Homo sapiens: one gene and its partners. The protein of the gene in region 4 purifies or fractionates together with the protein of the main gene of each other region. This does not show direct contact. Each region holds a gene or a part of one and is shown on either strand. Other genes may lie near its edges.

Evidence for each region.
Region 1: the proteins of NEMP1 (region 4) and ADCY9 purify together in Homo sapiens (co-immunoprecipitation; 3 studies listed by BioGRID and IntAct, with this or other methods). This does not show direct contact.
Region 2: the proteins of NEMP1 (region 4) and PIP4K2A purify together in Homo sapiens (affinity purification with mass spectrometry; 2 studies listed by BioGRID and IntAct, with this or other methods). This does not show direct contact.
Region 3: the proteins of NEMP1 (region 4) and RANGAP1 purify together in Homo sapiens (co-immunoprecipitation; 3 studies listed by BioGRID and IntAct, with this or other methods). This does not show direct contact.

Annotation. Positions count from the first base shown.
Region 1 is NC_000016.10:4,113,422-4,120,490, forward strand, and holds the start of ADCY9 (adenylate cyclase type 9), read right to left. Parts: upstream 3,022-7,069; 5' UTR 2,269-3,021; intron 2,065-2,268; 5' UTR 2,022-2,064; coding exon 329-2,021; intron 1-328. UniProt on the Homo sapiens protein: Adenylyl cyclase that catalyzes the formation of the signaling molecule cAMP in response to activation of G protein-coupled receptors.
Region 2 is NC_000010.11:22,585,554-22,592,578, forward strand, and holds part of PIP4K2A (phosphatidylinositol 5-phosphate 4-kinase type-2 alpha), read right to left. Parts: intron 6,229-7,025; coding exon 6,076-6,228; intron 1-6,075. UniProt on the Homo sapiens protein: Catalyzes the phosphorylation of phosphatidylinositol 5-phosphate (PtdIns5P) on the fourth hydroxyl of the myo-inositol ring, to form phosphatidylinositol 4,5-bisphosphate (PtdIns(4,5)P2). Has both ATP- and GTP-dependent kinase activities.
Region 3 is NC_000022.11:41,255,165-41,262,189, reverse strand, and holds part of RANGAP1 (ran GTPase-activating protein 1), read left to right. Parts: intron 1-609; coding exon 610-744; intron 745-4,083; coding exon 4,084-4,242; intron 4,243-5,365; coding exon 5,366-5,479; intron 5,480-5,899; coding exon 5,900-5,999; intron 6,000-6,084; coding exon 6,085-6,169; intron 6,170-7,025. UniProt on the Homo sapiens protein: GTPase activator for RAN. Converts cytoplasmic GTP-bound RAN to GDP-bound RAN, which is essential for RAN-mediated nuclear import and export. Mediates dissociation of cargo from nuclear export complexes containing XPO1, RAN and RANBP2 after nuclear export.
Region 4 is NC_000012.12:57,061,791-57,068,815, forward strand, and holds part of NEMP1 (nuclear envelope integral membrane protein 1 isoform a precursor), read right to left. Parts: intron 2,950-7,025; coding exon 2,856-2,949; intron 2,396-2,855; coding exon 2,281-2,395; intron 1,555-2,280; coding exon 1,329-1,554; intron 1-1,328. UniProt on the Homo sapiens protein: Together with EMD, contributes to nuclear envelope stiffness in germ cells. Required for female fertility. Essential for normal erythropoiesis. Required for efficient nuclear envelope opening and enucleation during the late stages of erythroblast maturation.

The DNA of each region.
Region 1 (7,069 bases), on a different chromosome or scaffold from region 4:
CTGAATGCTGAAGGGCTCCATACCCTTACATTCACCGGACGTGCCCCCACATTTCAGCCAACCAGTGGTTATGCACGTTCAAAGTTCTCCTTCCTTCTAAAGGTCGCGTCTAGGTCATCTCTGCACAGCGTCCCTTTCTGCAGTGTGAACAGATCTGTGATATTTGACCCGCTGAAAGAAAAGTCACACTGACCCTGAGATCCCCCCATGGTAAGGCATTCTGAGATACCTGAGCTGTCTGCAGACACTGAGGCTGGAAGCTTTTTTTTTTAATTTAATACAATCAGGATCAGGGAGGGGGGATGCCGAGGTAAAGCAGTGCACATACCTTTCAACTGGTCAGCAACCACGCTCTGGCCCAGCCGTTCAATAACTTTCCCATCTTCCATTTCGTACCGGTCATCTAAGTATTTTGCGGTGGCCTCAGAAATGTGAACTTTGCCGGCCACTCCCAGCTGCTCCATGAGATTGGCCAGGTTCACATCGTTGGACCACACGTCAAATTTAAACCTCCTCATGCCCAGGATGCCGCAAAGGACGGTGCCCGTGTGCACCCCGACTCTCATGTTCACCATCTCCTTCTTCTCCTGGCAGAACTGCTCGATGGCCTTGATCATGCCCAGGCCCATCTCGATGCAGCAGTAGGCATGGTCGGCCCGGGGCTCGGGACAGCCCGCCACGCAGTAGTAACAGTCTCCCAGGGTGCTGATTTTCTCACACTTGGTCTCCTCACACAGGCGGTCGAAGCGACCGAACAGATCGTTCAGGAGACCCACCAGGGCGTGGGCAGACTTGTTGGCACTCATCTTGGTGAAGCCCACGATATCTGCAAATAAAATACTGACTTCTTCGATCTGCTGCATCTTAAAAGGGCGGAAGGCTATAGGAGCTTTTTGGATGGAAGACTTTTTCTTCCTGTTCTTGGGGCTCGAGGTGGCATGCCTCTTGACAGAATTCTCACTCTCCTCATCTCCCTGCTTCATTAAGTCATCGGCTATGATTCTTGGCATCACGGAATGAATCATCCTCTCTTTGAGGGCTTTTTCCACTTCCAGGTCCTTCCCGTGCATAATGGATTGCCCCACCTTGAGGAAGGTGCTCCTGGACCTCACCTGGGACATGACGAACAGGTGGACCCCGATGGCGTGGATGCAGCCGTGGAGCAGCCCCCTGCTCAGCAGCTCCCAGTGCAGGGCCCCGGCTCCGGGCGAGGGGAAGCAGGCTTCATCCCGGAAATGGTAGCCAAAGGTCTCGAAAAGGACAGAGTAGGCCACCCCCAGACACAAACTCAGGTACAAAGGTAAGTGCATGACGGTATAGAGCAAAAAGAGCACTTCGATGCACATGGAGAAGCTCCCCACTTGAGATAAGCAAGTATCTGTGGGCCGGGCTGTGGCCGTAAGGTTGGAGCTGTCGCCGCGTCCTGAGACAGGCGTCAAGACCTGGAACTGCGCAGCCAGGGTCAGGGCGAACACCAGCAGGGTGAGAGCCAGCGAGGTCCACGCGTAATGCCGGGCGTACAGCTTGGTGAAGGTAAACAGAAAGAAGCCCACACACACCAGGAGGAAGCACAGCGCGGGGGCGACCATGACGATCAGTCTGGATCTCATGTGGACCGCAAAATAGATGCTCCACAGAAGGCAGGCGAAGCCGATGTAGAAGAGCGCATACCGGAACCGGCGCTGGGTCTGCGGGAAGCAGCGCTCCAGGCAGGCCTCCTCCAGGTTCACCGAGTCGAACTTGGGGTCCCACCAGCGGCTGGAGGCCCTCTCGAACAGCTGGGGCAGCTTCTTCTGCCTGCGCAGCCGGCCTCCGCCGCCCACTCGCCGGGGGACGCCCCCGGAGTCCCCAGAGCTGCTGCAGCTAGAGGAGATGCTGTATTTGCAGTGCTTGGGGTGGCTGTTGGAGGACAGCTGCTTGGGGTTGATCTTGACGCGCACGCTGTTGCTGTCCCCGCTGGAGTCGCAGCTCACCTCGGTGCTGTGGTGATGCAGCAGCTGCTGGTGGGGTGGGGAAGCCATGTTGTCGAGTCCCGGGGCCTGCCCCGGCCGGGGTCACCAGTACCTGCCAGCAAAACGGGGAGAGTTAGCGGCGCTCCCACCTAGGCATGCACGCCTAGAGGCCCGGGACCTGCTCCTGTCCTAAGGGGCGGCTCCAGCACGCGACCTGGACAGGCACCATCTGTTCCTGTGGTTCCCGGCTCAGCGGTGCTCCCACCGCCCCCACCGCCCCCACCTTCGAGGCGCACGAGAACCGCTCGGGACGGACCTAGAACGCCCGGGGGTCCCCGCCGCGTGGCCGCCGTGGCTCCGGGACCGCTTTGCTCGCTCGCCTTCCGCGCCTCTCGCCCCGAGGGTGGCCTCCGCGCCGCGCGGCTTCTCCTCCTCGCGCGCTCGCCTCCTCCAGCTGCGGCTCCGGAGGGAAGTTCAGACCTTGAGCGCTCCCAGCCCCGCGAGCCGCCTGCGCACAAACAACTCCGCTGGCGGCGCGGAGCCCTCCATCCTGCAGGAGCCGCGCTCCGATGCGTCAAAGGCGGCGCGCGGCCGGCCCCGGGCCCGGACCCCGACCCGGAGCAGCGAGCTTCGGCGGGCGCCCCCGGCTCGCGCTCCCCGGCCGCCCCCCGCGCTCCGGGCCGGCCCTGCCCGCGGCGGCGGGCGCTGGGGGTGGGGGCGCCCCGGGCTGCGAGTGCGCGGAGCCCGTCGGCGCGGCCCGTCTAGTGGGGCCTGCTTCCCCCCGAGTGCGCCGCCGCTCCCGCCGCGGCCGCAGCTGTCCCGGGACCGAGCGCGTGGAACCACGGACGCGGGCCCCTCGCCGGGCGGCGGTGCAGACGCTGCCGCAGAGCCGGGCTCCCGCGACGCCGGCCGGGACGCCCGCCCGCCCGCGCCCACGCCGGGGGCCGCCTCCCCGAGCTAGAGATGCGGCCGCCGCCGCGCCCGCCGCCGTGTCCCCCGCGGCCGCTGCCTCATGTCGGAAGAGCTGCCGCCGCCACCATCTCCGGCCCCTGCCCCGCCCGCTGTCACTGACAGACGCGCGCCCGCGCCGCCCCTCGCCCAGCCGCAGCGCGCACGCGCGGCCCGCGCTCGCCGCCACCGCCTCCTGGCCCCGGACACGCGCACGGGCCGCGCGCCGCCCCGCCTTGGTGCGCGCGCTGGGCTGGGGCTGCGGGGCGGGGCGGGGCGGGGCGGGGCGCGCGCTCGGCTCCGCCCCCCGCCCCGGGCGGCGCCGCTTCTAGGCGGCGGGCTGTGGCCGCTGTCCGCGCTCCGGGCGCTGTGGGCCCGCCCTCCCTCGGCGTCCCAGAGGCCGCGCGCCGCCCGGGGTCCCGACCCTGCGGAGAGACCTGAAGGCGCCTGCCGTGGAAGAAGCCGCTGGCCGCAACGTTTGGGAAATCAAAATGTTGCCTTCCCACTCGGCACGCCTTTGGGATAAATCGAAGTTTCCAACCGTTGGATTTCCCTCCCGGGAGGCTCCCCTTGCTCTGTAAGCAATGAATGCGGGCCCCGGGGCACTCGGCCTGCCCTGGACCTGCTCACGGGGCGACCTTCACGGGCCTAGCCTCCAAAGCTGGGCCCACCGACGACCACGTTCCCCCGCCCCAGGGGTAGTTTACCTTGCTGTCCTTGAGCCCTTCTCCCCCTCCTCATGAACTACTGCTTTTCCTTTTACACAAATGAGACTTTCAAAGGAGTCCGCGTCCCATAATGGCAGTTGTGCATTGGCCTCCATAAACATTGCCACGTGTAAATAAAATCCTATTCTCTCTAGCATGCAGATCCCGACCCCTTCTCCCCACACTCCACAGTGCCTCCTGCCAGTCACGGGGCTCTCTTCCATCCCCTCCCTCGCCTCCCAGGCCCAGCGCCGGGGCCCACACCAGGTCTCACTGTTGAATTAGAAAATAAAAGTAAAATGTGATCTGTCCATGCAATGGAATATTATTCGGCTACAAAAAGGAATGGAGCACCGATGCATGCTGCAGTGTGGAGGAACCCGGGAAACGTTATGCTAGTGAAAGAAGCCAAACAAAAAAGGCCACATAGCGTATGATTCCATCCAGATGAAATGTCTCGAATTGGCAAATCCGTAGAGGCGACACAGATTGGAGGTTGCCAGGTGCTAGGGGAGGAAGATAAGCAGCTTGGGGTTTCGTTTTAGGATGATGAAAAAGTCTAGAAATGATCCAACAGGATGAATCTACATACTGCCCTTGAATCATACACTTTAAAGTGGTTTAGGCCGGGAGCGGTGGCTCACGCCTGTAATCCCAGCACTTTGGGAGGCCGAGGTGGGCGGATCACCTGAGGTCGGGAGTTCGAGACCAGCCTGACCAACACGGAGAAACCCCATCTCTACTAAAAATACAAAAATTAGCCGGACGTGGTGGCACATGCCTGTAATCCCAGCTACTCGAGAGGCCGAGGCAGGAGAATTGCTTGAACCCGGGAGGCGGAGGTTGTGGTGAGCTGAGTTCGCACCATTACACTCCAGCCTGGGCAACAAGAGTGAAACTCCATCTCAAAAAATAATAATAAAATAAAATAAAGTGGTTTAAATGGTAAATGTTATGTTGAGTGTATTTTACCACAATAAAGGAGGAAAAAACTAAAAGCAACATATTGTGGTGGTATTCCTGCAGAAGTGTGTAATCTCAATCCAATCGCAAGAAAACACCAGACAAACCCAGATTGAGACCTGTTCTACAAAGTGATTAACCAGTACCCATCAAAAGTGTCCTTGGACACTTTGGGTCTTGAAAGACAAAGACTGAGAAACTGTCACAATCTAGGAATCGTCCCTAAGGGGATAGATACAACAACTAAATGGAACATGGGATGCTGGTTGGGAACATGGAACAGGAAAGGACAGTAGCAGGAGAGCGGGCAAAATTCACATAAGATCTGCAATTTCCTGGTTCTGATCCTCTTACTATGGTTAGGTAAGACGTTAACATTTTTAGGGGAAGCTGGGCCCTGTGCAGTGGCTCACACCTGTAATCCCAGCACTTTGGGAGGCTGAGGCAGACAGACCACCTGAGGTTAGGAGTTCAAGACCAGCCTGGCCAGCATGGTGAAACCCCCGTCTCTACTAAAAATACAGAAATTAGTTGGGCATGGTGGTGTGCGCCTGTAATCCCAGCTACTCAGGAGGCTGAGGCACAAGAATCACTTGAATCCAGGAGACGGAGTTTGCAGTGAACCGAGATCATGCCACTGCACTCCAGCCTGGGCAACAGAGCAGGACTCCATCTTGGGGGAAAAAAAATTAGGGGAAGCTGGATGTAGGATACAGGGAAACTCGCTAGTATTTCTGCAACTCTTCAAGTCTAAAACTATTTCAAAATAAGTTTATCTAAAAATTTAAAAAATAAACCTTTAATGAACATCAATTCTATGCCAGGCACTCTCACATACGAGGTTCAGAAACGCATGGTGTGTCACATGCATTCGCTTAGTAAATGGGATAACAATAGTGAACTAACATTGACCGAACACGTCATAAATGCCAGAAACTACTGGACATTTTCACCTGTGACACATTTGGTCATTGCCACAACCCTCTGAGGTAGATACTATTGTCCCTTGTTTAGAGAGGTGAAACCCAGGATTGAAGAGAAACGCACCCTAGGTCTCCCACTAAGGGTGATGAGTTCAGATGGAAAACCAGGTCTCAGAATTCTGAGGCCATGACGCCTTGTGTGACCCTGGCACTACCCTCTGCAAGCCTCACGATGGCCCAGCACAGACTGTACCTGTCTCATCCATCAGCCCAACTGGATGGGAGGCCCTCAGAGCCAGGACTCACAGCTTCCGTCTTCCCTTGCTGGCTGCAACGCTGTGCTCCCTGCTTCCTGGTTTCCTGAAACGATCTGAAAGCTTGCCTGTCTGCACTTCTTTCCTCCTCCCTAAATCATTTGTGGTAACTTATGTGTTTGTAAGTTAGTCACGTCGGATTTTTAGACACAAGTAATGGTCATACTCACCTCCCTACTTCTCTGGAAGCAATTCGGCCACATTGCCTGCTGTGGAAACCTATAAGCTGACAAGCCTCCCCAGTCTCCAGGTCAGGGAGTGAATCATGCCATCAACCCCGGGGGACTGGGGCTGTGGTGCCAGCACTGTGTGTCAGGCCCTGGAGGTACAAGGATATGCCATCCATATCTTTTCTTTTCTTTTCTTTTTTTTTTTTTTTGAGACGGAGTCTCGCTTTGTCACCCAGACTAGAGTGCAATGGTGCGATCTCGGATCACTGCAACCTTTGCCTCCCGGGGTTCAAGCAATTCTCCTACCTCAGCCTCCAGTGGAGCTGGGATTACCACCATGCCCAGCTGATTTTTGTATTTTTAGTAGAGACAGGGTTTCACCATATTGGCCAGGCTGGTCTCGAACTCCTGACCTCATGATTCACATGCCTTGGCCTCCCAAAAGTGCTGGGATTACAGGCGTGAGCCACCGTGCCCAGCCGCCATCTGTTTCTTTAAGGGGCTTAGGAACGATGTCCAGGGGAGGGGTTGGGTTAAGAAGATGGGATCAATTAGGCTTTCTGAAGGATTGGATGTGAAGGAGAGTTCTATAAAGGAGGTTAACCATCTTCTCATAATGCCAAGACCCAAAGGGAAGTCACTGGAGGGTTCTGGGTTCTTCTTGACCTCCCAGAAGCATAAAGGTACCCGATTCACAGAAGATACGGGGCAGATGCAATAGCTTTCTTCAAACATCCAATCCAGGGTGCTGCCAAATCCACAGAGAGTTTCTTTTTTCCATCTGTGATGTGTACAGAACTCCCACCTGGACACAGTGGGAATCAGAATGTGTCCATGAAAACTCTGCAAAAGCTTGCAGAATGCCTTGCCTGCCTCAGTGTCTCCTCCTCACCCTCCCTCACATGCAAATTCACATGATGGGTGAGGACCTTGGCTCCAGGATATCAGAGGTCAGACTGGGTGGCAACCATGACAGGCTTTGAGATAAGTTGCATAATGATTGAGTTGTAGCCATTCTCATCACACCGGCCCCTGAGGACTCGGCAGTGCCTACGTGATTTCATTTGTCAGGTGGACCACAATCTTGGAGAA
Region 2 (7,025 bases), on a different chromosome or scaffold from region 4:
TACATTCTAAGTCCTATACAACTTCAGGGAAGTATGTTACCAACAGTGCCTCTCAATTTTTTTTTTTTTTTTTGAGACAGAATCTCACCCAGGCTGGAGTGCAGTGATGCCATCTTGGCTCCCTGCAACTTCTGCCTCCTGAGTTCAAGGGATTCTCATGCCTTAGCCTCCTGAGCAGCTGGGACTACAGGCATACACCCCCAGCTAATTTTTTGTAGTTTTAGTAGAGACCGGATTTCACTGTGTTGGCTAGGCTGGTCTTGAACTCCTGGCCTCAAGTGATCCGTCCACCTCGGCCTCCCAAAGCACTGGGGTTACAGGCATGAGCCACTGTGTCCAGTCAATACTTTTCAATTTTAATTCAAGTTGAAGCTACATGATACCAAAGCTCCCAATGAATTCACGTCAGTGCGGGGAAAAAAAAAATTCAGTCGATTTAAGATAAAAAGATATTCAAGTAGGCAAATAGGTTTTTTACCATTTTTTCCTTTTTGAATGTTCTAACATTGTTTAGTTAATCAACTGATAATCATCATTTATAGGATCCGAGTTTCTTACAGCCTAACAGAAATGTGAAAAGGATATTTATAGCGAAACATTATTTTCCCAACTACAAGAGAAAATCAAATGAAGTAAACAAAATTTATGAAAGTTTGCTGTGCTTAATATGAATTCTCCATTGGTCTGAGAGATGATGCTCTTCTTTCTTTGCACAGAGTGAAAGCTAGGGTAGAATTTGGGCAGGAAATAAAGAATAGAGCAAGATACTGGAACTTGGGGGAAAAATCTAACTCCTCACGGCTGAAGTCTTCGTAATTCTGCATCAGTGCCACAGTCTACCAGAAACCAGGCCCCCTAGTGGATTAAAAGAGTTAAGGACTGAATGCCACATGAGAATGATTTCAACACTGAGGTGTAGGAAATTAAATACAAGAACGATATTTAATTAAAAATCTTATTCAGTCACTCATTTAGCACTTCTTTTTCTTTTTTTCGAAACGGAGTCTCGTTCTGTTACCCAGGCTGGAGTGCAGTGGCACAACCTCGGCTCACTGCAACCTCCACCTCCTGGGTTCAAGCGATTCTCATGCCTCAGCCTCCCGAGTAGCTGGGACTACAGGCACGTGCCATCATGCCTGGCTAATTTTTGTATTTTTAGTAGAGATGAGGTTTCACCATGTTGGTCAGGCTGGTCTTGAACCCCTGACCTCAGGTGATCCACCCACCTCGGCCTCCCAAAGTGCTGGGATTACAGACGTGAGCCACTGCGCCTGGCCCATTTAGCACTTCTTATATACTAGACACTGCTCTGAGCATGTTATAATATGAATTCACCTAATTAGCACAACACCCAAATGAAGAGGGTACTATTATCCAAATATTATAGACCAAGAGGTGTCAAAAGTATAAGTAAATTGCCCAAGGTCATGCCATTGGCCAGGGGCATGGCTGGGACCAGAAGGTGGCTGGCTGGCTCCAAGTCCTTGCTCTTGAACCACCTGCCATCCCAGATTGCTGGGAAGGTCAGTGTGTCAGAAAATTAAACCTAGGAAGAATTTATTCAAATATTCAAATAACTAGCCATGTTCTACTTCTCCAGAGGCTGGCCTTGGGCAATTTTAACCCTCCAGAATATAATTCCAACTGTGGCTGCATTTCCTTAAAACAAAAAACAACAAAGGAAAAGAAAAAAAAAAGGGCTGTTGGGTAACCAAAGTTGTCAGAAAGTCCATGCAATTCACTCCACGGGAGAAACCCTCTATGAGAGCCTCTCATCAACTGATATGCACCTGAACGATCTGCATTACTTGTCTAGATTCGGAAGGTTCAGAAGCCCAGAGAGTTCCAAGGCAAAAGCAACAACAAGCAAGAAGAAACAGAAGAAATGATGATCACTACTGAAGCTAGAGAGAGAAAGTTTCTTAGATACAAACCCTAAAAGTACTCTAGGCCCACAGAAAGTAGGAATGAAGGCCTGACATATACCTCAAATACCTCTGAGCATCTCAAACCACAGGGATAGAAACACAAAGCTTGACAGGCCTCCCTGGGTTTACCAATGACAGGCCTGTGTCCGGTCACACAGAATCACATGAGGACATGCCAGGCTGAGCCCACCACCCAGTAATATTCATCAAAATCTCGTCTGGAAGTGGCATACAAGAAGAACAGCCTGAAGAACATTCAAACAGAAGCCAGAATGGGAGAGGGCTAGGCAGCCGGTGTGCATTATAGCCTTTCTCTGTAGAACAGCATTTACTAAATGTAAACTACACACTGGTGTGGCCTTTGCTAATTGCTGCGGGTGTGATGTTTGACTCGGCGGACTGCATCTTCCTTCATGAACACCTGCCAACCTGAGCAGGGTCCCAGACCTGCCCTCAGTGAGCCTAGCAGGGGTCACCCCGAATAGATCAGTATCAAATAAGCTGTGTGAATGTTGAGACCTTTTATGAGGTTTCTGTGGAATTCTCTGATCATGTAATTAACACTGTTACTCTTCACTGCTGCTGTATTTTTAAAAACCTCTTCTATGTGAGATTTTGCTGAGATGTATATGAGTGGCATGTCCACCTTTAATGGTCAACGTTTGTGTCACCTATACATTTCCTTGTTCTTAATTTGCTTTCGTTTAAATGTAATTTAAAAATGGACAAATTAGCAAAACGGTGCTGCAACTGTGGCTGTATTTATACATGGCCTATACTGATAATTAGCAGCCTATACGGACAATTTTTTTTTAAGTTCTCTAACATTCTTGTATGTTTCTCAGCTTGTGGCAAGGATGTTGTTTTATCAGGTCAGATGTCCCTGTGTCCGCTCTGTGGGGAACTCCTTAGAGTCAACCCTGTTGCATCTTAGTACCAAGACCACTTACATTTCTCCTTGGCAACAGACTCAAAGTATCAAGCATGCTGGTCATCTTGGCATGAATATCTACGCTCATTCCAGGCTCCATTTTGTGCCTTTATCTTTCTGCCTCTTCCTTTTCTTTTTTTCATTTATTCTAGCTTGTATTTCCAACTTCTTTGAAGGCCACCTTAAATCCTTTCTGGAATAAGGTCAAGAGTGAATACATGAATAAATGAATGAATGAATGAAATGCAGGTGCAGAAGCTGAGTTCAGAGATCATCCAAGAGGCAGTTCCTAACAGGTTAGGATCTATGTCTCCTGACTTCTACTTAGTGCCCTTTAAATAATTTATATTAATAATGTGATTCCCAATCATTAAGACCCTACAAATTATATTTAAAATATTCTGTTTATAAAAAGAAAAAGTATAGATGTTGGATAAAGGAGACTTTTCTGAATAAAGAACTCACCAATAAGATAACAATTTTGTAGCAGTGGAACAGAAGGAAGTCTTTATACTGTTAAAGCCCCTGGGAGGTGTCAATAGACTTATTTTGATCCCACACTTATTTTATGTAACACTGGGGATATGTCAAATCCCTATGTTAGGTTACAATAACTAACCCAGAGAAAACATTTCAAATCGTGATTTTTGTAAAGTCAAAGGATGCTAAACTCAAAGTTGTCATCAAGAAGTTGGTACTTCAATTCTGTGTCACATTTTATTAGCATGGTATCATGGCCATTTTTTAGAACAATATGCTCTCATCAGTCATGAGATATCACTTCGCTTTGAATGTTCTGAGACAACTGAAAGAAAGTATAAAGAGAATGCATAAGTATGATATCAATTTCCAGAGGGGAAAAAATGAAAAAGTAGACAGTTTAAAAGGTGAAGAGTTCAAAGCTGCAACCTGTAATTCAATTCATTCAGATAACAGAGCCTCATGTCTTCCCCCTCACAGGTAGCATCCTGGCACTTTAAAATTTCCTGTAGAATAAGAGGCAGTAGCATAAGCAGTGTAGAACAAATTTCAAAAGGAATAGATATTATAAAAGATTTATTAGATATTAAATGAATTTAGAGGCTAATGATTTTAGAAAACAAACTAGAGGCAGTACCAAGTTTCAAGAAACAGAATATAGCTCAAAGATTTTTATAGACTTCACTGCAAGCAAAATGCAATTGATCATATTTGCAAAGATTGGAAGAATAAGCAACTGCCAAGAAAGAATCCATGATATTAGAGCATCATGCATGAACATAAAGTAATGCTTTTAAAGGGATGTTTAAACAGACATCTAGGAGCTCACAAGTCCAGGCCAGTGCTGCCTTCGAAGCAGATACTTAGTAAGTGTGATTGTTTATACTCGAGAATCCTTTTATTAATATATTCAGGACCTGCGGCACTTTATTTTGAATACCCATTGTGACAGCCAATTTTTACCTTTGGGGGATTGGGAGCTATTTAAGTTAAAAACACCGTGTGACTCTGCTATGAATGGAAAGTTTGTGTCCCCCAAAATGCTTACGTTGAAACCCTAATCCCCAAGTGATGGTATTAGGAGGTGGGACCTTTGAGAGCTAATTAGGTCATGAGCTTAGAGCCCTCATTATGTGATCAGTGCCCTTATTAGAAGTGACAGAAGAGTGCTTTTGATCCTATCCCACCCACCATGACCCTGCCAACACACGTGAGGCTACAGTGAGAAGCTGGCTGTCTGCAAACCAGGAAGAACCTGACCATACTGGCACCTTGATCTCAGACTTCAACCTCTAGAACTGTAAGAAATAGATTTCTGTCATTTAAGCTACCCAGTCTACGGTTTTTTATGACAGCTCAAGCTGACTAAGGTCCTAAAAGCAACAATGTGTGTATGTGTTTTAAACACCAGTTGTGAAGATGATTCCTGGGATGTTGCAACAGCAGACATGTTCATACCATATGACTACAATTTCTCCAAGTGACTTAGTTGTTACGTTATTTTTATACCATGGATGTTATCTTGATAATAGCGATGCTATGGCCACCACCACACATTGAGTATCTAGTGTGTGACAGACACTGTGCTAAGCACTTGACATGCAATTTCCTATTTAATCTTTAGAATCCATATTAGGTGTTATTATTATCCCGACTGTATAAACAAAGAAACTGTGGCTTCAAAATCCAGGCAGGGTGTGGAGGCTCACACCTGTAACCTTAGCACTTTGGGAGGCCAAGATGGGAGAACTGCTTGAGCCCAAGAGTTCAAGACCAGCCTGGGCAACATAGCAAAACTCCACCTCTATAAAAACACAACTTAAAAAAATTGGCCAGGCATGGTGGTGCATACCTGTGGTCCCAGCTACTTGGGAGGCTGGGGTGGGAGGACTGCTTGAGCCCAGGAGGTTGAGCATGCAGTGAGCTGTGATCACGCCACTGCACTTCAACCTGGCAACAGAGCAAGACCCTGTCTCTAAAAAACAACCAAGACCAGAAGTCACATGCTTAGTAAGCGACCTGGCTGGGATTTGAGCCCAGGATTGTCCAACGCTGGACTTCATGCTCTTATACTCCATGGTGAAGGAGGCCTCTCACAGCGCGGGCTGGGCCTTGGGAACATGTGCTCTACCAGAGAAGCTTGTGCTGGAATTTACTCCAGGAGAGACAGATTGCTGCTCCCAAGGATGGTCTACTTTACCTCCAGTGATTACAATGGAATTATGCTCGGGGATGAAAAGGGGGCAAGAAGCAGACCAACACCCACCTTCTAAAATCAGAGAGCTTGCTCCGTAGCAGATTGTGAATGGCGTGGGCCCTGCTGGGGCCAGGACAGAAGAACCAGTGACAGCAAAATAGGATTCGGAGGTGTAAATAGATACATACTCAGAGGTCAACACCTAATCTCTGGCACAGGCAAAAACTTCTGCAAAGTTGCCAAATCTTAAGCTGAATGATTTTAAAATCAGAGTAGTGATAACTGAAACTATTACACAAGAGTATTTAGGTTAAAAGTGTTATACAAATAATGAATGACCTTTATAGCACAAGCATGCCTAAAGGTTAACTGCCAGGAATCTGGCCACTGTAATTTTAGAACACAGGGTTAGAGGAGATGTTTATGTGAAATGTGTTCTTCTTGTTCTCTAACTATATATTTAAATCTCTGGCCTTGGTGAGAAATCGCTACGCATGTTAATCTTCTTGGAGTTTCAAATAAAGATCAAGAAAAATTACCTGGTGGTATTTCTTCAGGATGTTGTGCATTTCGGCCACGTCTTCACTGGTAATAGTCTTGATGATGTATCTTTTGTCGTAGGAAGTGTGAAAACGAGCTCCACTGCGGGCCTGGGAGTCGTTGGGGAGGGGTGCGCTCCTGGTCAGGGAATTCTTCCCGGGTGGGGTAAGAGGGGAAGGAAGGCGGGGGAAGATAACTAGTTAAAGGTGTGGCTTTCCGATTCCCAGATAATTTGTCATCATTGCAAGTTTTCAAAAACATTTGTGTGTGGGATAAATTGATAAGTAGGATGACAACATTTTTACATGCATCATAACTCACATTGCAAGCCTTTCAGATGAAATGAAAACAGCTTGAATTGTACTATGATTCTAATATCTTTAAAGCAGGCTAATGTCTAGAATTATAATCAAAGTAACTTTAATCACTTAGTTCTTTTCAGAGTTGGACAAGCTCTCAAAGTTTTCTTCTGAATAAAATTAGGTTCCAGTCATAAAAGAAAATTTTACAGTCACTGAGCATTTCCTTATATGACAGGTATCGTGCCAAGCATTTTGCACAGATTATTTCCCCCAATTCTGATAACATTCCCATGCAATGGTTACGATTGCTATCATCACTATTTTACAGATGAGGAGATGGGAATAAGAGAGGCTTAGTATCTGGGCAAAGGGCATATAGCTAATAAGGGAAGAGCTAGAATTCTGACTCCAGTGTGGCTGGCTCAGAATCCAAACTCTCAACTAGTAAACTACTCAACTAGTAAAGTACTTAACTTGCAGACTATGCTACCTGTGTGCCCCAGGAGGAGGAGGCAGGAGCCTGGGAGAGTGTCTTCTAAAACAGCTCCTCCTTAGGCGATTTGAATTTGGTCCATCCTCCACTCCCTACCACCATTTTTGAGAACTACTGATCTCCTGGAGGGTGGACAAGGACGGGCTCTGAGTAG
Region 3 (7,025 bases), on a different chromosome or scaffold from region 4:
TTTTTACCACCAGCAGGCAAGCTCCTGCTGTGCCTGGCCAGCTTTTAGGCACAGGCAGGTGTCAGACAGGTTCGTCTGGACCGTGGACTTGGCAGCTGGCTCCCTTGGACATTGTGGAACGTGGAAGAGAAGCTGGAAGATTTGGGCTTTGGTCCAGAGTCCACCACTTGTTTATTGACCATAAGAAAGTTTCCGTTCCTCTTACCCTGAGTTTCTTCAGCTGGAAAATGGGAGCCATGATTTTCCCACCTAGCAGAGGGCCTTAGACAGTGAAGTGAGCTGACTAGGAAGTCCTTCCCCTGGACCTGGCTAAAAGTTCATCCACTCCATGTGGTCTCTCCCTTTCCTGAGTAGGGCTTGGTCTCCCCGTCTCGAAAGTGAAGCTAAACCTCTCAGGCTGGTGTGACACAGCATTAGAGATAAAAACCTTGTGTAACTGAAGTGCTGGACATATTTAAGGTGTGACTGTTGAGCTGTTAGCAGTCCTGCGTCCCCTGACCTGCACCGATGGGTGGCGTGGGATGTTGAAGAGCAGTTCAGCAGCAGTGGCCACCCCGCTGGGAGAAGGGGCTCCTGCCCATGACCAGGGCCCCTTGCCTTTCCCCACAGATCCTGGCTGCAGCTCTGACCGAATGTCACCGGAAATCCAGTGCCCAAGGCAAGCCTCTGGCCCTGAAGGTCTTTGTGGCTGGCAGAAACCGTCTGGAGAATGATGGCGCCACTGCCTTGGCAGAAGCTTTTAGGGTGAGTGGTTTCTGTCCATCCTGCCCCTGCAGCCTTGAGGTGCACTCGGCATAGTAGGCTGACAGTTCTGGATGCTAATCCCAGGGCTGGCACTCAACCAAGAGACCTGGGGCGTCACGTGCCCTCTCCAAGCCTGTTAACCCATCCGAAAATGAGCCAGAATTCCTGTCGTGCATTTCTGGAAAGGTGTGTGACTTTCCGGAAAGGTGTGTGACTGGCTCCCACTGGTGAGCCAGCCCCTATGGGGCTTCAGGCCAGGCAGGCCACTCTGACCAAGGAGTGTCATCTGCCAGGCTCAGAAGTGGTGAAGTGAGATGGTGCGAGTGCTGACAGTAGCCTGGCCCAGCCACTGGTGTGGGGCACAGAGAAGGAACATACCAGACCTCCAAGACAGGGAGATAGGCAGGGGCAGCCGCAGGGCTCAGGTGCCAAATGACGTGCTCTCAGGTGACCTTATCCCCACTCCTCTTCCACTCTCCTCTCCCCATCCCCGCAGGACATTGCTGAGTCCCCGATCGTGAGTGCCAGCAGAAGGCTACACTTGCCCCTAACAGGACTGAAAACTTTGGGGTCTGTCTCCCTCCTCTCTTTCCTGTTTTTTTTGAGGCAGAGTCTCATTCTGTCACCCATGCTGGAGTGCAGTGCGTGATCTTGGCTCACTGCAGTCTCCGCCTCCCAGGTTCAAGCAGTTCTGCCTCAGCCTCCCGAGTAGCTGGAATTACGGGCACCCGCCACCACACCCGGCTAATTTTTGTATTTTTATTAGAGACGGGGTTTTACCATGTTGGCCAGGTGGTCTCGAACTCCTGACCTCAAGTGATCTGCCCGCCTGGGCCTCCCAAAGTGCTGGGATTACAGGCGTGAGCCACCACGTCCGGCCCCTCTTCTCTTAATTTAAATGTTTTCTTCAGCAAACAGTATCCTAGGAGCATTGCTCATACGGGCCGGAATGTCCTGGCTGCCCATCGAGGCTGTCTGTAGATACCCTTTGCCTGCTTCAGTGCCAAGTGAACATCGCAGAGATCTGCCTTGTGTCTCCCTGCACCCCTGGCTGCAGGGGAGCTCCTGCTGCCTCCTCTGGAGCTGGTGGGGGCCTCACTGCCATCCTTGGATCCCTCCCTGCCGTCAGCCTGCTGTCCTCAGTGCACTGGGAGGAGGGGGTGCGCTGTGGTTGTGTTGAGCCTTCATAGGTGTCCTCTGGTGGGCTTAGAATGGGGGTTCTTAATCCCCCCCAGTATGTGGATAGAATTCAGGGGTCTGTGAACATGGATGAGGAAAAAATAACATTATTATTTATTACTAATGTAGCTAAAATATGTAGTGTGACCTTTGATTATAAATGTAGACAATAAACCTCACAGCATTAGAAAGGCCTGTGACTACCCACATAACAAACAAGCACATGTAGTCCCTGAACCCAAAAAAAAAAAAAATTTTATTGAGGCAGGGTCTCGCTCTGTTGCCCAGGCTGGAGTACAACGGTGCAATCTCAGCCCACTGCAGTTGAAGCTTCCCAGGCTCAAGTGATCCTCCCACCTCAGCCTCCCGATTAGCTGGGACTACAGGTGTGCACCACCATGCCCACCCAGTTAATTTTTGTATTTTAGTAGAGATGGGGTTTCACCATGTTAGCCAGGCTGGTCTCAAACTCCTGACCTCAGGTAATCCACTCGCCTTGGCCTCCTAAAGTGCTGGGATTATAGGCATAAGCCACTGCGCCCAGCTTAAAATTTTTAAAAAAATAAAAAGAAAATCTTGTGACTTTATCCCCAGTGGAAATCACAGGTATTTCATATGAAGTTATAGTTACTGCTGATATATAGAAATATTTCTCACTACATCAAAATTACAGTAATAGTGGACCCACCCCTAGATCTTGTTATTTGGTGCATTAACAAGAAGTTTGTATATCACTACAGCATGCGTTTGGAGTTTTTTCCTAAATGTTTTGATAACTGTTCCAACTGAGTTGATTTCCTTTGTAATTCTGTGTAATTTATCTTAAAATTTTAAAAAAACATTTTTTGAGGAGGGGACCCAGGGGCTTCACCAGACTGCCTGAAGGGTTCATGGCACAGAAAATACTAAGAAGGCCTGACCTGGAGTGTGCCCAGGTTGGCCTTCCTGTATTTATTTGTGGACCACCCGCTCCCCCCATTGCCCTGTGCTGCACTGAGCACCTGAAGACAGCAGAAGATTCCTTGGCACAGTTAAGCCAGGCCAACCCTCAGTCCTGGGTCACAGTGGAGACTGGGACATGGCCCTCTCCTCCAAAGCTCAGGGGCCGATGGGATGCAGACGGAATATAGGCTTTGAATGTAGGCAGGATGAGGACCACCGTGATAGAGGAGGGACCAGGTGCTCCGGGAGCACAGAGGAACGCACACTGGATCGTGGCTGGGGGAATCCAGGAAGCCTTCCTGGGAGAGGAGGTGACCAAAACAAGAGCCCTAGAACTCATATGAGTTAGCCTGTCAAGAAAATGCTGAATGGCTGGGTGTGGTATCTCACGTCTGTAATCCCAGCACTTTGAGAGGCCGAGGAAGCTGGATCGCCTGAGGTCAGGAGTTCAAGACCAGCCTGGCCAACATGGTGAAACCTCCATCTCTACTAAAAATACAAAATTAGTCGGGTGTGGTGGCGCACGCCTGTAATCTCAGCTACTCAGGAGGCTGAGGCAGGAGAATCACTTGAACCTGGGAGGCAGAGGTTGCGATGAGCCAAGATCATGCCATCACACTCCAGCCTGGGCGACGGAACGAGACTCCGTCTCAAAAAAGGAAAAAAAAAGAAAAAAGAAAAAGAAAATAAGGAGGCAGAGAGAATGGGTATCAAAAGGCCAGGCTGTGATAGGGCTGCATGGGCCAGGGAACACCCTCCTCATCCCTAGAGAAGGACGCCATGTCGAAGGGGTTATGTTGTGTAGGTGGGTGGGCTAGGAGGGCCCCTAAGAAAGAAAGGTCACATGGAGCTATGTCATCCAGAGAAGGGGCATGAGTGCCTGCCCACCACAGCCAGGGTCCCCACTGTGCTGAGGACACCAGACTGAGAACAAGAAATCGACCTGCTGGATCTAGAGCTCTGTGACCCTGGGCAAGTCACTTCGCCTCTTTGATCCCTAGTCTTTTCTCTGGTGGGGATCCTATCCCAGGCAGTAGGCCTCCCTCAGGAGGTTGTGGAAAGAGTTAGATGCAGCCATGCCCCAAAATCCCACAGACAGGCCCCTGCCCTGTGCTGGCGGCAGCCCATTCCTGTGCCTGCTGTGTGGAATTGCTCTCCTGCCTGCTGGATGTCACCTGGCACTCGGGGCCCCCTCCACTCTCTGCCTCCTCTTCACAGGTCATCGGGACCCTGGAGGAGGTCCACATGCCACAGAATGGGATCAACCACCCTGGCATCACTGCCCTGGCCCAGGCTTTCGCTGTCAACCCCCTGCTGCGGGTCATCAACCTGAATGACAACACCTTCACTGAGAAGGGCGCCGTGGCCATGGCCGAGGTGAGGCGAGTGTGGCAGAGCCAGTTGGGCCCCGCCAGATAGAGGCTGGCTGCTGTCTTTCCAGGGAAGCTGGGGCTCCGTTTAGCAGGGACTCCTCTACCCCCTGCCTGCCCCCTGGGTGTGTGCCCCATGGCTCCAGCTCTTTGAACATGTCCTGAACAGGGTTGCAGGTCCCAAGGTAACCCACGCCCTCCTCGGGCAGCTCTGATTCTTCATGCCACCTTCTCCTGAGCCGCCTCTGCAGCCCCCAGCGGCTGCCGCTGGTTTGTTCTCAGGCTGCACAGGAGCAGACTGCTCCCCACATCTGTTTTCCTGGTTGATTTGTTCAGCAGCTGTTGTTTGTTTTGTTATTTATTATCACTTTTTGAGACGGAATCTTACTGTTGCCCAAGCTGGTCTTGAACTTCTGGGATCAAGTGATCCTCCCACCTCAGCCTTCTGAGTAGCTGGGATTACAGGTGCAGGCCACTGTGCCTGGCCCAGCAGCTGTTTTTTGAGTCCCCATTTAGTGCTTGGCTTTGTACCAAGTGCAGGCCACATGGGGTTGAGCCAAAGACCCCGCCTTCAGGGAGACCCTAGCTCAAGGAGGGAAGGAAGCTGCCAGTGGTAACAGTGCTGGGCTCTGAACGCAGTGGCTTCTTGGCTGCCAGGGTCCCGTGGCCCCACAGAAGGCTAGTCCGGCTGCCTGTGTGTTAGCAGAGATGTGTGCAGGTGTTGGGGAACACGCCAGAAGGAAGTTCAAATCAGACTTAGGGCAGGCTTCCTGGAAGAGATCACATTTTGGCTAAGTTGTATAGGGCAAGTGGTCTTTCTCTGGACAGAGGGTGGGGGATGGGTGTTTCAGGCAGAGGGATCAGCTTACGTGTGGAAGACCCGGATGCTCAGCAGGAACCTTGCTTGGTTGGTCTCAGGAAGAGTTCTGGCCGTAACATGGGGAGGGGTGGAGGAGGTTTGGCCAGGGGCCCAGAGGCCAACAAGTAGAAGACGGCAAAGCTGGTGACTTGCAGAGGAGGACAGTGTGTGGTGGCTGGCTTGGGATGTGACCGTGTGGGGCCCCCGGGGCTTGCTGAGGGCTGGGGTGTGGTCTGCACCCTCACTCTGGACCCTTGCTTCCCCCTCACAGACCTTGAAGACCTTGCGGCAGGTGGAGGTGATTAATTTTGGGGACTGCCTGGTGCGCTCCAAGGGTGCAGTTGCCATTGCAGATGCCATCCGCGGCGGCCTGCCCAAGCTAAAGGTGCCAGCCTGGACGCCTGACGTCCTCCCTCTGGGGTCTGTGGGTGGTGGGGCGGCTGGGGGCACAGGGGTCTGGTCTGAAGGCAGGTGGGCCTGTGTCCATATCCCAGCTCCTCCACTTCGGGCCCTGTGATGCTGTGTGAGCCTCCACACCCCTCTGAGCCATGGTTTCTTCATTTCTAAAGCGGGAGGCAGGGAGTGGTGTACATCACTGTCTTGTGATTTAAGTAAACACAGTACGTGACTCATCGTTGGCTGCAGGGCATTATTTTTGTTGTTGGTGTTATTCTTCCTGCCCACTTTGCCCCACCTGGAGGACAGAGCCTGCCATATCCTCACTTGGGGAAACTGAGGCTTAGAGTAGAACCTGGTGTCCTGGCCCGGGTTTCTGCCTGCCTCCAACCCTTCCTCTTATTTTCAGGAGCTGAACTTGTCATTCTGTGAAATCAAGAGGGATGCTGCCCTGGCTGTTGCTGAGGCCATGGCAGACAAAGCTGAGCTGGAGAAGCTGGACCTGAATGGTAGTCGGATGGGGGAGGCCTCTGCACAGGTCTGCTAGGCTGGCCCTGGCACCCCGGCTGACTGCTCTTCCCTCCCCTTGAGCAGGCAACACCCTGGGAGAAGAAGGCTGTGAACAGCTTCAGGAGGTGCTGGAGGGCTTCAACATGGCCAAGGTGCTGGCGTCCCTCAGGTAGGGAACTCGGGGTGGCCCCAGAGGTCGGGGTCAGGCCATTCCTTTCTTTCTTTCTTTTGTTCTTGAGATGGAGTCTTGCTCTGTTCCCCAGGCTAAAGTACAGTGGCGTGATCTCGGCTCACTGCAGCTTCCACCTCCTGGGTTCAAGTGATTCCCCTGCCTCAGCCTCCCAAGTAGCTGGGATTACAGGCACCCACCACCACACCTGGCCCCTTTATTTGTTTCTACTTGTATTTATTCAGAAACGTTGGGTGCACTCCTGTTACGTACTAGGTCATACACTAGGCATCAGGGCTATAAGGATGGGACAGTCAGGGCTTCTGTCTCGTGGGGTGGAGACAGAATGAGTTGTCCGTTCAACAGAGGAGCTCGTACGGGCTGAGCGGGGCCACCCTGTAGAGTGGTGGAGTTGGGGAGGCCTCTGAAGGGGTGAGGCCAGATCTCATCCTGATGTGGTGGGGCCTGGGGAGTGATGGGGGTGGGAGGTGGGGGCAGCCAGAAGGGGCTGCACTCGGGATTGTTCTTAAGACGCTGACTCTAGAAAGGAAGAGACCATGGGGCCTGGGGAGTCTACCTGGAGGTGAAGGTGGGTGGCCGGGGAGTGGCCATCTCCTGGATCCAAGTCCGGTTGGGCCATCAGCATCGGGCTCCCTGTGCCCCTCGCATCTCCAAGTCGGCCTCATTCGTGTGTCAGATACTCAGTCGTGTCTCCTCGGTGCTAGGCCCTGAGCTGAGGCTAGGAACTGGGGACTCCGAGGTGGGCTGAACCTCACAGGTCCCACTGTCCCTGGGAAATGGTCCAGCCTTCCTATGGGGCAAGGACACCCCTACTCTTCTTCCTCCCCCACACCTG
Region 4 (7,025 bases):
GATTGAGACTATCCTGGCCAACATAGTGAAACGCCATCTCTACTATAAAAATGCAAAAATTAGCTGGGCATGGTGGCATGTACCTGTAACCCCAGCTACTCAGGAGGCTGAGGCAGGAGAATCGCTTAAACCCAGGAGGCAGAGGTTGCGGTGAGCTGAGATAGCACCACTGCACTCCAGCCTGGTGACAGAGCAAGACTCCATCTCAAAAAAAAAAGATTGTGGTCCAGTAACTTGGTTTCCCAAACTGAAAGCATCACCTTGACTATCTATAATAGACAACTTCAGGACCTAGTAACATTCCATATTTATTATGCAAGGTGACAAAACATGCTATGAATTACATCTTAAAATAAGACTAAGACCTCCAGAGCAATCTGAAAGCCACTGAGAAATAGTCTGAAATGGGCTGGGTGAGGTGGCTCACGCCTATAATCCTAGCACTTTGTGGGGCTGAGGTGGGCAAATCACCTGAGGTCAGGAGTTTGAGACCACCCTGGCCAACATGGTGAAACCACATCTCTATTAAAAATACAAAAATTAGCCAGGCATAGTGGCGCCCACCCGTAGTCCCAACTATTCGGGAGGCTGAGGCAGAAGAATCACTTGAACCCGGGAGGTGGAGGCTGCAGTGAGCCGAGATCACGCCATTGTGCTCCAGCCTGGGTGACAGAGAGAGACTCTGTCTCAAAAAAAAAATCTGAACCCAGGAGACCTCAATGAGCATACGGTATAAAAGCGATACAATTTGTGGCGGGGCGCAGTGGCTCATGTCTGTAATCCCAGCACTTTGTAATCCAAGCACTTTGGGAGCTCCTCAGCACTTTATGAACTCCTGACATTTGAGGTCAGGAGTTCAAGACCAGCCTGGTCAACATGGGGAACCCTACTAAAAATATAAAAATTAGCTGAATGTGGTGGCGCATGCCTGTAATCCCAGCTACTCAGGAGGCTGAGGCAGAAGAATCGTTTGAACCCGGGAGGTGGAGGTTGCAGTGAGCCGAGATCACGCCACTGCACTCCAGCCTGGGCGACAGAGCGAGACTCCATCTCAAAAAAACAGTGATAGAATTTGCACCACCTTGTGGTAACAGGAACACATGACATTTTACTAGACATTTTATATAAAATGACTAGAATAAAAATATAAAAATTCCTATAGAAAGTAAAAAAAAAAAAATAGACTCGGGAAGGAACAAAAGTGGAAGTACAATACAATGACTTTTCATTAACAAAGAAGCTCCCAGGTCAACACCTCTGTATCCTCTTGCTGCAACTGCATCCCACAATGTACCTGTCAATATTAAGTTACATTGCCTTTCAGTCACCTGCAGGTGATGTACAGCCACTGAATAGGGTGTTCCAGGTTCTTAGTACAAAGAGCAATGATGATAATGGCAAGGGCAATATGTGGTATCTGGATGCCAGAATACATGAAACACAGGCCCATCAGCTGCAAGGTCCAGGTCAGCAGGTTGATACTTCGTTCATTCTCCAAGGGCCCATACTTGTAACATACTGCAAAACTCATGAATCCAACTGTGAGGACATAACCTATGAGAAGAGTTATCAGAAGACATTCTTTTTCATCTATACTTGGTAAAAATAATTTGTGTGGGAAGCAGTAGTTAATTTACTATATAGCACCAATTGAACTAGGAAATCAGATTTTTACTTAATTTTTCACACTTTTTTCTTAGAATATATTTCTCTAAGTTTCTATCCTTTCTGCTGTCCCAAATTTATTTGGTTCAAACAGAACATTAAAGGTACATGTTGAACAACCCTGAAATAGACTATTTTAAAAAACCAATATACAGAAATCCAGATTAATCACCCTTCAAAGGATAACTCAAAGGTTACTATCTATATGACCAAGGATTTTTACTTTGTAAATAAAATCTACAGCAGTTCATTCAGAAATGAAGGAGAAAAAAATTAACTGCGGAGTCTTTTACTTAAGGTCCCCAAGTATATTTAAAATATGATTCCATTAATAAAGTCAACTTACAGCTTTTCAGAAAGATGTTTATTGTGTAAAGAAAGGTATATTTATAAATACCAATAAATGAACATCTTCGCCTTAACAGCACCATTCTAATTTAAGAGAAGGTGATAATTGTAGAGGGATTAGAAATAAGTGAAAAACTATGATTTTTAAAAGTTTAAAAAAATGACATGAACTATTAAATCCCATAAGCAGGCAAAATCTTTTCATGATCAAATTAACTGAAACAGCCTATAAACGTACAAAAGGAAAGCAAAACCGACAACACTTACTTAAAAGATACTGCCAGTAACACCTCCAGATCTCTTGTAAATTTTTAAAAACTAGTTGAATGAGGTACAGAGAAAAAGACCAGCCTCCCACCAGGATGACGTAAATGGGACTTTTCTAAGACAGAGAGTAGAAGTGAAAGCAAAAAGTTACAACAGGCTTTCCATACATAAAAGAAGCAAAATGGAACTATGATTTTTTTTTTAAAAAATTCAACCTACTCAAAATGCACAAAAAACACTTCTCTTAAAAAGATGTCCTTTATACTTAAAATGGTACAGTCTGCAACGAACACTGGGAAGATGAAATGCTAAATAACTTAAAAGCCTGGCTATATAATTAAAAAACAGGAAGCAGACTTTAATCCCCCTCTGAGCACAGGATTTTATATAAAAAGAAAGAATTTGTAATCAGGCTCCAAGTTTCATCGTGGAAAGTACCTTTCTGAATCAAGGAGAGTAGGATATTGACTCATCAGCCATCAATACACATTTTCAGTTTTCTAAGATTACCCAGGAAAACAGTCCTTCAGCTATCCAAATTCATTCTAGCTGCACATGAAGATTCTGATACTTACCTTAGGCATAAACTTAGATAGTATAAAAATGATGATTAGCAGAGAGGCCACAATTCCCACAGTCATCCCAGTAGAGTAGTAGAAAATTTGACTTCTGCAGGAAAAAAATGTATTTCATGACCATATGTATATATTTCATACATAGCACTGTTGAAACTAGGACAACTAACCCAGCCGAAAGATTTTAAAAGGTACAAGATTAGAGCAGTACAAGCATCAGAGACATTTCAAATTTGGTTCCAGACCACTGCAATAAACCAAATATTGCAATTGCAGTAAGTAAGTCACACAAATTTTTTGGTTTCCCACTGCATATAAAAATTGTTTACACTATATTATAGTATATTAAGTGTACAACAGCATTATGTCTTAAAAATATATATTCCTTAATTAAAAATACTTTGCTAAAACCTGCTAAAGATCATCTACGCCTTCAGTGAGTCATCATTTTTTTTGCTGGTGGAGGGTCTCACTTCCATGTTGATGGCTGTTGACTGATGAAGGCAGTGGTTTCTGAAGGCTGGAGTGGCTGTGGCAATTTCTTAAAATATAATGAAGTTTGCTGCATTGACTCATCCTTTCAATGAAGATTTCTCTAAAGCATGCAATACTGTCTGATAGCATTTTACCACAACTTCTTTCAAAACTGGAGTCAATCCTCCAACAGCATTAACCCTTAACAAGAGGATCACCCCTCCTTTGAAGCTAGGCACTGACTTCTCTCTCGCTATCAAAGTCCTCAATGGCATCTTCTTCTAGTATAAGGCTATTTTGTCTACACTGAGGAGCTCTTTAATTGTAGCCACTTTCAACAATGATGTTAGCTAGATCTTCTGAATAACTTGCTACAGCTTCTATATCAGTGCTTGGTTCATCTTTTTTTTTTTTTTTTTTGAGACAAAGTCTCACTCTGTTGCCCAAGCTGGGGTGCGATGGCGTCATCATGGCTCACTGCAGCCTTGATCTACTGGGCCCAGGTGATTCTCCCACCTCAGCCTCCCGAGTAGCTGGTACCATGACTTTTTTGTATTTTTTGTAAAGGCAGGGTTTCACCATGTTGCTCAGGCTGGTCTCGAACTCCCTGGGCTCAAGTGATCTGCCCGCCTCAGCCTCCCAAAGTGCTGGGACTACAGGCCTGAGCCACCACGCCTAGCCTACCTTGCACTTATGTAATAAGACAGCTTCTTTCCTTAAATCTCATGAACCAAGAACCTTCACTAGCTGTAAACTTTTCTTCTGAGGCTTCCTCACCTCTCACCCTTCACAGAATTGAAGACAGTTAGGGTCTTGCTCTGGATCAGCCTTTAGCTTTAAAAAAGTTGTATCTGGCCGGGCATGGTGGCTCAAGCCTGTAATCCCAGCACTTTGGGAGGCTGAGATGGGAGGATCACGAGGTCCGGAGATCGAGACCATCCTGGTTAACACGGTGAAACCCTGTCTCTACTAAAAATACAAAAAAATTAGCTGGGTGTGGTGGCAGGCGCCTATAGTCCCAGCTACTAGGGAGGCTGAGGCAGGAGAATGGCATGAACCTGGGAGGCGGAGCTTGCAGTGAGCCGAGATCACGCCACTGCACTCCAGCCTGGGCAAGAGAGCAAGACTCTGTCTCAAAAAAACAAACAAACAAACAAAAAAAGAGTTGTATCTGGTTTAATCTTCTCAACAGCCAACTAAAACTCTCTCCATATCAGCAATAAGGCTGTTTCACTTTCTTATCACTTGTGTGTTCCCTGGAGTAGCACTTTTAATTTCCTTCAAGAACTTTCCCTTTGCACTCACAACTTGGCTAACTGCTCAGGACAAGAGGTCTAGCTTTCGGTCTGTCTTGGCTTTTGCTGTTCTCACTAAGCATAATCAGAGAGATGTATGACTCTTCCTTTCAGTTGAAGACTCACAATCTACTCTAGGGTTATTAATTGGCCTAGTTTCAATATTGCTGTTTCTCAGGGAATAGGGAGGCCCAAGAAGAAGGGAGACGGGAATAACCAATTGGTTGAGTTGTTAGAACACCCATGACATTTATCGATGAAGTTCACTGTCTAATATGGTTTGGCTGTGTCCCCACCCAAATCTCATCTTGAATTGTAGCTCCCATCATTCCCACGTGTTGTAGGAGGGAACTGGTGGGAGATAATTGAATCATGGGGGCAGTTGCCCTCATACTGTTCTCATGGTAGTGAATAAGTCTCATGAGATCTGATGGTTTTATAAGGGGTTTCCACTTTCACTTGGTTCTCATTCTCTCTTGCCTGCTGCCATGTAAGATGTGCCTTTTGCATTCTGCCATGATTATGAGGCCTCCCCAGCCACCAGGAACTGTGAGTCCATTAAACTTCTTTTTCTTTATAAATTATCCAGTCTTGGGTATCTTTATCAACAGTATGAAAATGAACTAATAGGCTGGGCGCAGTGGCTCACGCCTGTAATCCCAGCACTTTGGGAGGCTGAGGCAGGCAGATCATGAGGTCAGGAGATCGAGACCATCCTGGCTAACACGGTGAAACCCGTCTCTACTAAAAATACAAAAAATTAGCTGCACGTGGTGGCAGGTGCCTGTAGTCCCAGCTACTCGGGAGGCTGAGGCAGGAGAATGGCATGAACCCGGAAGGTGGAGCTTGCAGTGAGCCGAGATCGCGTCACTACACTCCAGCCTGGGCGACAGAGCGAGACTCTGTCTCAAAAAAAAAAAAAAGAAAATGAACTAATATACTGTCTTACATGGACATGTGGTGCCCCAAAATAATTGCAACAGCAGCATCAAAGATCACTGATTATGGATCACCATAACAGTTATAATCATATGAAAAAGTTTGAAATATTATAATTACTAAAATGTGACACACAGACCCCAAGTGAGCACATGCTGTTGGGAAAACGGTGTGATAGATTTGCTTGACCCAGGGTTGCCACGAACCTTCAATTTGGAAAGAAATGCACTATCTGTGAACCACAAAAAAGTGAAGTACAATAAAGTGATGTGTGACTATATTTGCCCAAAACTTGAGGTCAGAGAACTGTAGAGACTGATGCTATGTAGTTACTGCCAGATTATGAAGATTAGGATTAAAGGTCTTCCCTCATGTATTTCCCAATAATCAGCCTTTACGTAATGTCCTATTCACATCCCCATCATCTCTCCCGACCTGAATATTATTATTTTGTCACCCAGGCTGGAGTGCAGTGGTGCAATCACGGATCACTGCAGCCTCAACCTCCTGGGCTCAAGTGATCCTCCTACCTCAGACTCCCAAGTAGCTGGGACTACTGGCATGCACAACCATGCCTGGCTAATTTTTGTATTTTTTTGTAGAGGCAGGGTCTCACTATGTTACCTAGGCTGGTCTCAAACTCTTGGGCTCAAGTTATCCTCCCCCTTCAGCCTCCCAAAGTGCTAGGATTACAGGGGTGAGCCACCACAACCAGCCCCCCATTCCAGATTTTTTCTACCAGTTATTCCTCCCTGTTTCTCTCAGCATCACCAAAATAACAACTTCCAGCAACCCCACTCCAGCCCAACTTCAAACTCCAATTGTTAATCTTGCATTCACTACTCCACAAATACTTTTTACTTGTATACAAACTTAATGTTGATTTTACCTTCATTCAATGTTTATTTAGTTACCTATATATTTTCTTCATATTTGTACATGTCAGTCTCACCTGTCTTAACTAGTAGGTTCCTAAAGGAAAAAATGAATAAACACTTGATTTTTTTTTTTTTTTTTAAACAGGGTCTCCCTCTGTGGCCCAGGTTGAAGTACAGTGGTGTGATCTTGGCTCACCGCAACCTCCGCCTCCAGGCTCAAGCGGTTCTCGTGCCTTAGCCTCTCGAGTAACTGGGATCACAGGCACATACCACCACGTCCAGCTAATTTTTGTATAGACAGGGTTTTGCCATGTTGCCCAGGCTGAGCTGTGATATTTGTTTCCTTTTTTTTGAGATGGAGTCTTGCTCTGTTGCCCAGGCTGGAGCACAGTGGCACGATCTCGGCTCACTGCAAGCTCCACCTCCTGGGTTCACGCCATTCTCCTGCCTCAGCCTCACAAGTAGCTGGGACTACAGGCGCCCGCCACCACGCCTGGCTAATTTTTTTGCATTTTCAGTAGAGATGGGGTTTCACCGTGTTAGCCAGGATGGTCTCGATCTCCTGACCTCATGATCCGCCAGCC